2 linked regions of the Homo sapiens genome follow. The protein of the gene in region 2 interacts with the protein of the main gene of each other region in a biochemical or structural test. Each region holds a gene or a part of one and is shown on either strand. Other genes may lie near its edges. The genes, in order: AP3B1 and KIF3A.

What was found.
Region 1: the proteins of KIF3A (region 2) and AP3B1 form a complex in vitro, tested with the Homo sapiens proteins (one study listed by IntAct).

Annotation. Positions count from the first base shown.
Region 1 is NC_000005.10:78,284,649-78,292,005, forward strand, and holds part of AP3B1 (AP-3 complex subunit beta-1), read right to left. Parts: intron 1-7,357. UniProt on the Homo sapiens protein: Subunit of non-clathrin- and clathrin-associated adaptor protein complex 3 (AP-3) that plays a role in protein sorting in the late-Golgi/trans-Golgi network (TGN) and/or endosomes.
Region 2 is NC_000005.10:132,713,268-132,720,624, forward strand, and holds part of KIF3A (kinesin-like protein KIF3A), read right to left. Parts: coding exon 7,342-7,357; intron 3,718-7,341; coding exon 3,578-3,717; intron 3,176-3,577; coding exon 2,978-3,175; intron 2,665-2,977; coding exon 2,490-2,664; intron 1-2,489. UniProt on the Homo sapiens protein: Microtubule-based anterograde translocator for membranous organelles. Plus end-directed microtubule sliding activity in vitro. Plays a role in primary cilia formation. Plays a role in centriole cohesion and subdistal appendage organization and function.

The sequences.
Region 1 (7,357 bases), about 54 Mb from region 2:
TATATGCAAAAGAAAAAAGGCTAAAAGATATATACTACATTAACCGATTTCTTCTGGATATTGAAATTAGGGTTGTTATTTTTCAGCTAACCTGTATCTGTAAGTTTTCTAGAAGAAAAAGGGGATATCAGCAATTCTCCAGCAATTTTCCTTCTCTCTAATGCATCATCTATTTTCTCTCCTCTACATCAGTTGGTTCCATCAGCAAACAAGATAATACAGTTTCTCCTACCTTAAGGAAAAATTCCTTGACATAACATTCCTCTCCAAGTGCTGCTCCATTTCTCTGCTCTTCTATACTTAAAAATATACTAATGGCCAGGCGCGGTGGCCCACGCCTGTAAATCCCAGCATTTTGGGAGGCCGAGGTGGGCAGATCATGAGGTCAGGAGATGGAGACCATCCCGGCTAACACGGTGAAACCCCGTCTCTACTAAAAATACAAAAAAAATTAGCTGGGCGTGGTGGAGGGCGCCTGTAGTCCCAGCTACTCGGGAGGCTGAGGCAGGAGAATGGCGTGAACCCGGGAGGCGGAGCTTGCAGTGAGTCGAGATCACGCCACTGCACTCCAGCCTGGGCGACAGAGCAAGACTCTGTCTCAAAAAAAAAAAAAAATACTAACCACAATTCTTCTTCTTCCTTCTCTCTTGAGCCCACTCATGAGGCTTTCAGCCCCACCAGTGCACCTAAACTGCTTGTCACGGTCACCAAAGTCCACCCAGTGACAAATCCAAAACTCCCTTCTCAGTAATCATCTTACTTGACCTATTTGTATTATTTGACACAATTACTCCAGGAATGTCCCAGGACTGACTGACTCTGACCTTTTTCTACACTCACTTCCTCAGTGTCTCATCCAATCCCATGATACCTGATGACTCCCAAATTTATACTTCTAGCCTGACTCCTCCTCTAAGCTCCACACTCTGATATCCAACTGCCTATTTAGTATCTCCACATGGATGCCTAATCGCATCTCAAACTTAACATGCACAAGCTCTTGGTCCCTTTCCCCCTTTAAAAAAAAATTCCTCTTTGCACAATATTCTTCATTTTAGTTGACAGCTATTCCAAACTTCGAGCTGTGTAGGCAAAAAACTTTGTATCCACCCTTGATATCTTTTCTCCCACACACATATCACATCCAAACTATCAGCAAATCTCATTGGCTCTACCTTTCAAATATATCCATAACTCACCCACTTCTCTCCACTACCACCAATCGGATCACCTTCTCTTGCCTGAATTACTGTAATAGTCTCCTTGCTGGTCCTTGCCTCAAATCTGCAGTCCACTCCTAGTTCAAGAGGCAAAATGTCCCTTTAAAGGGTAAACAATCATTTCACCCCTCTGCTCAAAACTCTCCAAATGGCATCCCTTCTCACTCAGAGTAAAATCAAAGACCTTAACAATGATTTTACAAGGCCCTACACAATCAGGTCTCCGCCTTCCACTCTGCCCCTTATCTCTCTGCCCTCATATTTTACTAATTAATTTCCCCCACATCCTTCTTGACCACATTCTCAACCTAGGCTTTAAAAACTTGCAGAAAACCCATTCCAAGAATAAAGTTGGGTGATGCCTAGCTCTGCCAACCTATGATTTTGGAACCACCCTACTATGGTTTCAATGTGTCCTCTCCAAAATTCAGATGTTCAAACTTAATGGCCAATATGATAGCATTAAGAGGTGGGGCCTTTAAGATTTAGTCATGAGGGCTCCTCCCTTCATGAATGAGATTAAGGCCCTTGCAAAAGAGGCTTCACAGTCTTCCATTCTCTTGCCCTTCCACCTTCTGCCCAGTAAGGACACAGCATTACTCCCCTCCAGAGGATGCGGCAACAACAGACCATCTTAGAAGCAAAGAGCAGCCCTCACCAGGAAACTAAACCTGCCTGTGACTCAATCTTGGACTTCCTGGCCTCCAAAAATGTGAGAAATAAAATTATATTCTTTAGAAATTACCCAGTCTCAGGTTTTTTGTTATAGCAGCATAAAACAAACTGAGACAGGGCCTTATTCATTCTTCTCTCATTTGTCCAGCTACCATGCCAACTCACTCAGCTGAATTAAAGACAGTGGACTTCTAATTAGGCTGGTTCCTATCAGCAATATAAATAATCAGTCCATCAATAAACAGATATTGGCTATAAACTGTTCACTTTTGTAGATCTATTAAGTCTTTCCAGCTGATAGGCTAAATAAGCCTTCTCTAAATACACGAACCAACGTTATTCATAATAATATGAAATAGAGGAAAATCATTTCCTTCTTGATTATTCTACTTTAAGCTCTTCATTTTAAATTTTGAATTTGGACTGCAGGCAATTTGTTTTTGTCAGTAGTTCATTTATATACACAAGTGAAATACTGTCAAATTATTTCACTGTAATACATTTGTCATTCTATGAGCATTTATAACTTTTCATGCAGCAAAAAAGAACATTTCAACCAACCATCTGTCTGCCTTTTTCATGTGCTTTAATCATTCAGCTCTGGTAATGTTGCTCCAAATACTAAATTTTTTTTAAATAACATAAAATCTCACATCTTATGATTTAATGGTAAGGCTTGAAATTTAATTTTCAGATTTTTCTCCTCAAATTTTACCAGATCAGTGATTTTAAAAATAACATATCCTACTGTCAAGAAAGAATATTTTCTTGAATATTTATTAAGACAAAATGTAGAAGTCAGAACCAACTCTCCTTCAAGGAGATATGCAAGCAAAGCAAAATAAGATAAAAGGTTTTATAATCTGTTGGAAAGTAAGACTCTGTTTACAGGCAGTATTTCATCAAATTTCTATTCAATGTAGTAAAATCTTATTTAATTTGAAATATATTTCAAGAATTAAATCATAAATGGAACCCTACTGCACCACTGAAATGACAATCCTTAATTTGAATAGTTGGCCCTTTGTAAAACTTACGATCTTATTTTTATGAAGACAAAAACAACTAGTTCAGCTGCTAGGAATGCACTGCAGATGCTAGTATACAGTTTCTTCTTTTATTTTTAGTCACCTTGGAACAAATGCTGAAATTTAGTGAAAAATCAATAAAATACTAAAATTTCCTAATAACTTAATGTACCCCTTGTAAAAAAAAAAAAAAAAAAGTAGGATCCAGTTTACATATGTAGCAAGCAAATATGTTAACAGCTCTAGTACCAGATCTAATGACCATAAATTTCAATTAGCTAAACATAATAAACAAGACAGATCAGTTATCAAACCTGGAATTATTAGAACACAAGAGATTTAAATCTTCATAACTAAAGATGATCAGATGTATAACAGTATGCTGACAAAATCATGACTGAAGCATATTTTCATAGCAGCAACCCTGAACTCCTGAGCACAAGAGAAAGGAATTCACAATGAGGAAGGAGCCCGTGCCTCTTCATGTCATGCTTATGACTCAGGGCACCAACACTTCAACGTCTCAAACTAAAATGTCCTTAACATTTCAAAATTCCAGCATTTCCATTTTCTTCAGTAAATCACTGTTTACACAAACAAAGGCTTATAACAAATAATTTTCAATAGGTATGCCACACTGAAAAGTTGAATTACACAATTTAACACTAATTGTATACTTGAATTACTGACGGTTAGTTCACATTAGCCTAATCTCTCCAAATAAAGTCTGAGTTTCTTAAAAACAAGATAAAGACACTATAATTGTTATGCATTTTTATGGTGAAAACACAGAGGAATGAACCATACATATGGAATAATCCAAGACTGGGAGGTAAAGATGCCTTTGAAGACTGGGATAAAGACTAAAAATCCTGATTGTAAAGTTCATTCCATACCTACATGACAATTCCGAGTCAGTTAATCCTAACCACAGCAAAGACCCAAGTGAACTACACAAAATTAGCTTCAGGGTGATGCTGTACTACAATACAATGGAGATACCAGATGAGGGTTTCCTTCTGTATAGGGTCCACGGAATCAGTCATGCTTCATTTTTTAACAACATTGGCTAATGAGAGAGCAAATGTTAATGGAATCTAAATCACTGAATTGAGTAAAAGGATCTGAAAATATTTTATTAAGCAAAATTATGAGCCAAACACTTTGCTAGGCACCTTCACACAAATCACAGTCTTTAATATGAGCAGAATGTGTGAACGATTTATCTATATAAATATTTAAGAAATATTCACTGAGCAACTACATAAACTGAAAATACACAATGAGATAAAGTTTAAATGAGAAATACTAGGATAAGCAAAAAGAAAGTAGAGCAAGCTCTAAACAACTAGACCATGAAAAAATGTTAAATGAAAAAAAAAAACACCCAAAAATATGGTACAGACACTAGATAAAATTAAGTATTAATAAAAAATGGACTTAAACACAAACAAGTTTAGAACCCATAGTGAGACACAATGACTCTTTGAGGTAGGTCAAATATAATGCGTTACTATTAATAAAATTGTATTTTTAAGAAAGTATATTCAATAACATCCCTCTAAGTAAATGAATCTCACTCAGCTGCATTTCTATATGCCTTTCAGAAAGATACAAAAAGTAGTGGAGATAAAGTCAGAGTTGCTATAATTGCGTACAAACCACAGACACATGTAATCTTCCTACTGGACTCTCCTGAGAATCACTGATATTAAAGGTTAAGAATGAATGTAATAGAATTTTCATGTTTGATATTGTAAAGTTGACAATGAATAAGATTTAAGTTAAAAAATAAGTCAGGCTTTATTGATGCAATCCAAATACACTGGGTTGTATTACTGACTACAGGAAAGCATGCAGTACTTTGCTTGGATCTAAATTAGCTCTTTGAATCTAAACAAATGAAAAGCCCACCCCGATTTAAACAGAGTAAAAATGCTACCTTTCAACGTGTGCAGGAGGTACTGCATTGCTAAGTTACTGGCTGCTAAAGTCACCTTTCAGTTGTTAAACCCAAGGGCCTCTTTTCAGCCTTCATTCTATTTGCCCTTACTCTACAACTCCTGACATAGCTGAACATTTCCTTCTTTTAATTTTCCTGTTAGCATCTTCTTTTTTAAACCTTCCTGTGTTTTCCCACCCTTCTGAGCTCAGTCTCTTTTTCTAGTTCTTCCATTCATACTTTATATCCTGTTGTCCCCTGGGTTTTGTCCAAACTGCCTTCTCGTCTAACAAGAAAAGTCTTCCCTGGGTGATTTCATCCATTCCCATACTTTACTACCTACTATTCATAATTGTGATGTCTAAATATCCATCTCATTTGAACATGCTTTTTCTTTTGCAAATCTTCTGGTTTCTACATACTCTGCCTAAAGAATCCATCTTTCCTCCCCCTGGCAAAAACCTCAGGCTTTAAGATCTAAAGTGTCACTACCTCAGTGAAGTCTTCACCAACTTTCCCAAATAGCGTTAGTTAATATCCTAGTTTAGAAATCACTTTGAAGTACACCATCTCATGAGATCCTCACAAAAGAGGCAAGTATTATCACATCCCGTCTAGAAATGAGGAAACTGAGGTTTGAAGAGATCAGCAACTTGAACAAGGAAGCACTACTACAAATGGAAAACATCAACTTAAATCCAGGTCTTCTAACTCTGGGCCCAGTGTTTTTTGTTTTTTCTTCCCATTTTCATTTATAGAGACAAGGTCTCACTATGTTGCCCAGGCTGGTCTGGAACTCCTGGGTTCAAGCAATCCTCCTGCCTGGGCCTCCCAAAATGCTAAGATTACAGGCAGGGGCCACCATTCCCAGCCTCAGTCTTCCTTCTAATACACCAAGATGCTCTCAAAGGAAAAGAGATTTACAAATTTAGTAGCTTTACTATTGTAATTAAGAAAAATTAATTAGTCTTGTCTGTTTCTAGAAATTAATTCCTAATTAAATGTTTAATCCAGTAACAGAATTATTAAAATTATTTTTAATTATAGGCACACATACCCAAATTGGTTAAAAGAAGTTTTTTTTTAAATGAAGAAAAACAACTTAGAAAAAAACAGAAAATAAAAGTTGAGAATATTTTAAAAAGAAGGAAGGGGCCAAGCACAGTGGTACACGCCTCCAATTCCAGCACCTTGGGAGGATGAGGCAGGCGGATTGCTTGAGCCTAGGAGTTCAAGACTAGCCTGGGCAACATGGCAAGACCCCATCTCTACAATAAATACAAAAATTAGCTGGGCATGGTAGCATGCACCTGTAGTCCCAGCTACTCGGAAGCCTGAGGTGGGAAGGATCACTTGAGCCCAGATGGTTGAGGCTGCAGTGAGCCATGATCACACCACTGCACTCCAGCCTAGGCAACAGAGTAAGACATGTCTCAAAAAATAAAAAATAAGAGTACAAAAATAAGTTCTTTACATTTTAAATAAAGAAATTGAAAATCTTGAAGCCAATAATCTAATACACAGGCCTTTTTAGCCAATAAATTAGGTATAGGATCTACTTTCATAAAGCCATCTAATTCTGCTTCTGTTTGAAGAGAGGAGAAGATAAATAATATTGATAAATAAGATTAAATTCAGAAAACAAAAATTGCCGATAATACTATGACTAGGAAGTACCTAGGCATCATTGAGATGGTTAGTGAAGGATCAGTGAACACAGAGCTCTAGGCCAAGAAGCCAAAGAGCAGAACAGCAGAGGGAGTTGCAGCTGAAACATTACCATTTTGCAGCCATTGTGGAAAAGACAGGTTCAGGAGATTGATCAATGGTTGTTAAATGTAGAAGTGGTCCATTTAAAAAAGAGCAAGACATCTGCATGGTCTCAGTGTCTCCCCACAGATAATTTGAAAAAAAAAAAAAAAAAAACAGAAATGACACCACAGAGAAACTGGACAACCCTGTGACTAGGAAAATTAACATCATGAAGATGGACAACCTATGCCTCCAAATGTAATAGTTCAAGAAGCATGCATCACCTATGGTAGTATCCCAGCCAAGGATACATAACCTGAATCTAAACATGAGGAAACACCAGCAAACCCAAAAACTGATTAACATAAAATAAAATAATAGGCTTTGCAATCCTTAGATATGTCAAATTCATGAAAGACAAAAAAGGCTAAGGAACTATCCCAGATTAAAGAAGATTAAAGAGACATGGCAACTAAATTAAATATATTATCTTGGACTGGAAACTGTACTTGAGGAAAAAAATGCTTGGGAAAAAAAACACTTTATTGGAACAAAGGATAAAATTAGATTAATTTCCTGAATACATCAACACTGTAGTTGCGTAAGAGAATATCTTTGTTCTTAAAAATTACACATTAAGATTTTCATTGTAAAAGAACATGATGTGTACAACTGAGTCTCCAATGGTTCAGAAGACATAATAACATGAATACGTATATGTGCCTGAATATGCATGGGGA
Region 2 (7,357 bases):
GGAAGGAAAACTGGCCAAATTTGAATAAAGTCCACAGATTAGTTAATAAGACTATATCAATGTAAATCTCCTGGTTTCAATAACTGTTGTATGCTTATAAAAAATGTTAACATGAGGTGAAGCTGGGTGAAGGGTAGATAGGAACTCTCCATATCATGTTTGCAAGTTGCATATAGCCTACAATAATTTTTAAGTTTAAAAATTATTATTTTAATGCTATTGCCTACTTTTTTATTGTTGATATGATCAACTCCATTAACTAGATTATAAAAAGAAATGTCATAAGAGCAAAAATGAACTGAAATGTATTAACAACAGTATTATCATAGAATCCAGCAATTCCATTGCTGGGTACATACCCCAAAAATGGTAAAACAAGAATTCAAACAGGTATTAGTATACCCACGTTCATAGCAGCATTATTCACAATAGCCAAAAGGTGGAAAGAACCAACTGTCCATTGGTGGATGAATGGATAACAAAATGTAGTATATACACAATGGAATGTTATTCAGAATTAAAAAGAAGTCCTGATACATTCTACAACACGGATGACCCTTGAAGGCATTATACTAAATGAAATAAGCCAGTCACAAAAAGACAAATGCTGTATTTCACTTTCTTTTTTTTTTTTTTTTTTTTTTTTGAGATGGGAGTCTCACTCTGCCACCCAGGCTGGAGTGCAGTGGCATAATCTCGGCTCATTGCCACCTCCACCTTCCAGGTTCAAGTGATCCTCCTGCCTCAGCCTCCCAAGTAGCTGGGATTACAGGCGAGAGCCACCATGCCCAGCTAATTTTTGTATTTTCAGTAAAGATGGGGTTTCACCGTGTTGGCCAGGCTGGTCTCGAACTCCTGACCTCAACTGATCCACCCGCCTCGGCCTCACAAAGTGCTGGGATTACAAGCGTGAGCCACTGCGCCCCACCAATTCCGCTTTCGTAAGATACCCAGAGCAGTCAAATTCATAGACAAAGCAGAATGGTTGTTGGCCAGGAACTAGGGGAAGGGAGGAATGGGTACATACTGTTTTTAATGAGTACAAAGTTTCAATTTTGCAAGAAGAAAACTGAAGACGGATAACTGCAGAACAATGTGAATGTAATGCCACAGAAATGTAGACTTAAATGTGATTAAAATGGTAAACTTTATGTTATGCAAGTTTAACCACAATTTTTTAAAAAGGAATAAAATTCAGGCACTTGCTACAATATGGATGAACCTTCAACGTTCTGTTAAGTGAAATAAGCCAGTCACAAGTAGATACTCCATGATTTTACTTATATGAGGTACCTAGAATAGTCAAATTCATAGAGACCGAAAGTAGAATAGTGGTTACCAGAGACTGGGGGAGAAAAGAATAGGAAGTTACTACTTAAATGGGCACAGCATTTCTGTTTGGGATGATGAAAAATTTCTAGAAATGAATAGTGGTGACAGTTGCACAACAATGCGAATATACTTGATGCCACTAACTGTACACTTAACTAACAATGGTTACAATGATAAATTTTATGTCATGTATATTTTACCACAACAAAAAAATGTAAAACATAAAGTCAGCAAAATAAAAGTATGCACTCACCGTTAACATCGCTAAGAAATTAAAAATCTTTAAAACATACTGGCTATAAATACCACCTAGTGGTCACATTTAAAACACCAAATTTCATTATCTAACAGTTCTCTTACTGCTTTTCCTCAATAACTACTTGTTTACTAAATAAGTACCCTCTCTAAACATTTGTGATGCTGGCGTCTCTGAATTTCACCTCTGATCTAGTCAGTCTTCTCACAGACTACAAAGGTGCTTTGAAACCAAAGCCCTGTTTACGTGGTTCGCGAAGGAGCTCTGTACCAATCAGAAAGGATCTGTTTCTCGCATTAAGGTGCAAGGACTCACTCAGCACTTAATGACTGGGAAGCGTCTCACTCTCATAAATAAGATCTTCAAATTTTCCAACTTTCTAGCATGATATTGTTAGAAAAGAATTTCCAAAATACAATCTCATGTTCAAATTTAGGTATGAAAGGATATTTTAAAGGTCATGCAATGCATTTTTCCTTATAGCAAACTTGGTTTACTCATGACTGTCTAATATCTTGCTTTACTTCAAACAATAGTTAGTTGATATTGATTGCAATGCCAGAATTCTGGTCATTTTCACCTAAATACATACATTGCAGAATTTGCTCTTATACAGAGACAAATAAACATTCATTCCTTAAAAAGTGGTCATATGAAATCTACAAAACATCATGCAAATGTTTTTAAAAAACCACATACACAAATATTATGTAATTTTACTTAAGCTTAATATGAAAATGCGAAAGTATGTAAGTACCAAGTCACTTTCTAGAAATATTCATTTAACTACCAATGTTAGAGGCTCAAAAAAGGTTTAATAGAGGGCTTTTGTTAGAACAGTTAGTGGTTCAACAATGTATTTTTAGCCAACATAAAGATTAATATTTTGAGGAAAAGCTACCTTCTTCAAGCTTCTTTTTCAGTTCTTCTATTTCTTTCTGGAACTGACGCAGCAAAGCATCCTTTGGATCTTCATTAATTCTAGCTTTATTTTTAATATTCTTAGCACGATTGGCATACCGTAATGTACTGATAGTTTCATCATAATTGTAATCTGCTGGCCCAATATTTGCACACTATTGAATTAGAAATATGAAACAAATCATTTTACACTTGACAGAGTTAAAATTAATACTACCATTACAAATACATCAAAAACATTTAAAGCACATATGCACCCTTGGCCTTCTCGAAAATGAGAGTGTCAACCACATGAGTTTCCAAAGGACACTATTATGGGCTAATACACGAGTGTACCACAAAAAGGACAACCACAAGTCAAAAAAAGTAAAATAATCAAGTTTAAAAAATGTGATACGTATCAATTATTGGCATAAATTACAATCTTAAATTTGCCTGATGTTAACTATATCACCAATTAAGTCTTACCATCATGGTTTTTGAATTTCCTCCTAAGGAATCCTGAAGAAGACGAGTCAGTTTAGAGTTACGATAAGGCACATGAGTGCTTTTTCCATCAACCAAGGCAGAAATTACATTACCAAGGGTGGAAAGTGAAAGATTGATTTTTGTAGCTTCCTTTAGGCGCTGTCCAGTAGCTCCAGTTTTTGCCTGTCTTTCTGAACCCTAGCAATAAACAGAGATGAAAGTAAAGCTAAAATTTTTTTAAAAATAGAATATTCTTCCCAAGGTTTTATTAAAAAGTAATGTAACAGTAAAAAACCTGATATGATGCCTGAATTCACTTCAAAATAATATAGGAAAGGAAGAAGTGGGGGAGAGTACATGAAACAAGATTAGCCATGAGCTGATTGTTGGGAGTTGGGTGATCAGTGTATGGGGGATCACTATACTATTCTATCTACTTTCATATACATTTGAAATGTTCCATAATAAATAATAAACATACACAAGTAACACCTTAAAAATCATATGTAAATCATACCTTTTCACTTTAATTTTCATTCATTTATAAAATAAATGGATCACAAGAAAGAGTTATTCCTTAAGCAGTGTCCTGTTACTTACAGCAAGATCTACAAGATGGAGCTTCCCCATCCTGACATGCATGTTACCATCAATGCCTTTTTCACTGCATTCTATAGTAATTGTAAAGATGGCATGGGAACGGGAACTATGTTCGTTCATATTAGTTGCACCAACAGAACCTTTAATAAATAAACGAAATCCTTTAAAAGTGTAACAGAGAGTGCCTTTAAAAATAATTAAACATCCTGAACAGTTTAAAACACTTAATTTTATCACAATCAAAAGCCAGAGAGCATGGCTAAACCATAAAGGCATGGGTGTGTACTTAGCCACTACATGAAATTTCTCTTATACTTTGTTGATAACAAATTTGTAAGGTTTCTCATATTAAAGACATAACTTTAGCAAAAAATAATTTCAATCCCTAGTAATACTGCCTAAAAAATAACTAATTTACACCAAAAAACCACATTAATTGGAAAAATTATTGCTGATTTAGCTATCTAAAGAGAAGTATGCATGCTGGTGTACTGCAGGAAGTAAAAAACAATAATAATAAAGAGAATTTTAGCTACTTGGGAGGCTGAGGCACAAGAATCACTTGAATCCGAGAGGTGGAGGTTGCAGTGAGCTGAGATTGCGCCACTGCACTCCAGCTTGAACATATAAACCACAGGAATACTTGCACACATATGTTAGACAATACAACAATATTCAGTGCAGCATTAAAAAAAATAAGGTAGATCTAAAAACGTGGAAAAATGTCCATAACATATAAATTAAAAATAAAAGCAAGTTAGAAAGAAATACATAACATAATCCTACTTCTGTAAAAAAAAAAAATCCATTCAAAATATGCAAAGTATTTGCATATGTGTAAATATATGAATATATTGTGTAAACAAAAAACATTTTTTTACAATAGACCTGTATTAGTTTTTTTCTTAAATTCCAAAGTATTTTAAAGTTAATTTTACTCAATGCCAAAATTATCTTCCTACTATACATTCATGCAGCATTTTTCTGTGCAAGCTTTGATTTTATAATTGAAACATTAAAAGGGTAATCTTTAATGAAGTGACCAAAAGCTCCAATTAACTACCTGAGAATTAAATTAATTTCATTCTATGAATGAAATCTTGTGTTAAAATTTTTAATTAAATAACCAATAATTAACATATTTCTGGTATTTGTTTTTTTAATAAAAGCATACAGAAAGCATAAAGTGAAAGCTCCTGACATTCCTTTTCCCCAATTTTATTTCTCCTTCTCTAAAGGTAACCACTACAATCTGTCCTTTCATTCTGTATTTTATATACATACGTGTAGACACAAACACACACACACTGCCCAAATAAATATATGGTTTAACAATTTTTCACATATAAATAAATGGGGTAAGGCAGTACATACATACTGTTCTACAATTTGCTTTTATCCCCCCACTGACAAACATACTTTGAAAATCTTCCAGCTCTGTGTAGGCACATTTACCTGACTGGGTTTTTTTGTTGTTTTGTTTGAGACAGGGTCTCCCTCTGTCACCCAGGCTGGAGGGCAGTGGCACAATCTCGGCTCACTGCAACCTCCACCTCCCAGGTTCAAGTGATCCTCCGGCCTCAACCTCCTGAGTAGCTGAGATCACAGGTGCGCACCACCACGCCCAGCTAATTTTTGTATTTTTAGCAGAGACGAGGTTTCACCAGGTTGGCCAGGCTGGTCTCAAACTCCTGGCCTCAAGTGATCCATCCGCCTCAGCCACCCAGAGTGCTGGGATTATATGCATGAGCCACCACACTCAGCTTGTTGTTTTTTTTGTTGTTGTTTTGTTTTGTTTTTGAGACAGAGTCTTCCTCTATTGCCCAGGCTGGAGTTCAGTGGTGCTATCTTGGCTCACTGCAACCTCTGCCTCCCAGGTTCAAGCAATTCTGCTGCCTCAGCATCCCAAGTAGCTGGGATTATAGGCGTAAGCCACCACGTCTGGCTGATTTTTTTGTATTTTTAGTTGAGATGGGGTTTCGCCATGTTGCACAGGCTGGTCTCTAACTCCTGAGTTCAGGAAATCTGCCCACCTTGGCCTCCCAGAGTGTTGGGATTACAGGCATGAGCCACCACACCCAGCCTAACTCATTGTTTTTAACAGCTTTATTACAGTCTATGGTATTTTTGTGTCATCATTTACATAATCAGGGTTTTATTGAAGGTTATTTAGATTGTTACATCTAAAAATATTTTCCAGAATGTCTAAAATTAGAAACACAGAGTCAAAAGGAATGTATTTTAAAATGTCAACAGATACTGTTAACAATGCCCTTCAAATAGGCTGCACCAATTTATATTCCATCCTCAGTGCCCATTTCTTCAAAGTCTCACCAACCTACATATCCTTCATCTAATCTGATGGGTGAAACATCTCTCTCTATCTTGTTTTAGCATTTTCCTGATTAGTTGTGAAGTTAAACAGCCTTTCACATACTTATTGCTGTGCTTAGTTCTTCTACGAATAACATACATATTTTTTGCTAATTTTTCTATTAAGATTTGGTCTTTTTCTATTAATTGGTTCATAAGAATGTAATTGATTTTTGAAGTTTTGTTGTTTGATTTCCTTGGGTTTGATATATCTATCGTCAAGTCACAGAAACTTATAAAAATTTTTCATTTCCTATTTCTCATCTTTTACCTCTAATCCCTCTTTTTTTCTTTTTTTTTTGGTTGCTGTGTTGCCCAAGTTGGAGTGCAGTGGCGCGATCTCGGCTCACTGCAACTTCTGCCTTCCTGGTTAAAACGATTCTCCTGCCACAGCCTCCCGAGTAACTGGGATTACAGGCACCCACCACCACTCCCAGCTAATTTTTGTATTTTTAGTAGAGACGGGGTTTCACCATGTTGGCCAGGCTGGTCTCAAACAAGTGATCCACCCACCTCAGCCTCCCAAAGTGCTGGGATTACAGGTGTGAGCCACCGCGACCAGACTTTTCACCTCTAATTTCTAATTGCTATTAGCTGCATCACCAGTACTAGGTTTGAGGCATCTGTATAATATCGCTGAAGCTTCCTACTCTTTAGACTAAAAATGTGACACAATTACTAAAAAGAATACAATTTTTTAATTTAAATTTTGTTTTGCTTTTCTTGTCAACAAAAGGGAAGCATTACAGTGCCTAGTTAATGCAGACTACTGGCCTAGGTTTTTTGGGTTTCTTCCAGGTGGGTTTCTTTAGGACAGGGGCTCCCTATTGTCCAGGCTGGTCTCAAACTCCTGGCCTCAAATGATCCTCCCAGTTCAGCCTCCCGAGTTGCTGGGATTACAGGCATGAGCCACTGTGCGTGGCTATGGCTTAGGTGTGATCACTCACTCTACCACTTAGTAGTTATAGTACTTAGACAAGTTACTTAAACTAAGTCTCACTTTCTTCATTCATAAAGTAAGAATTTAATGTCTTCATAGTCTCCTGTGAGGACTAAGAGAGCATCTTTATGAAGCACTTAGCACAAGCACTCTCCACTAAGAGCTCAATAAACATTACCAATTTTACTATTATAGCTACCAAGAGACAGCCGTATGAGAGTTGCATAGATTGGCGCTACTAAAAAGAAACAAAATTTTGCTCGGCATGGAAAATGATTTGTGGTATCTTTCATTCATCTATGCTCTCTACATGGTAAATAATCAAAGTGGAATGGTTTTCAAGAAACCTAAAAAATCCAGTCTCTACAGGGTAAAGTGCCATACCAAATTTGCTTCTAAACCAGCCTACTCAACACACAGATGCTTAATCACAATTACACACTATACTTACGATTTTTGTGGCCTAG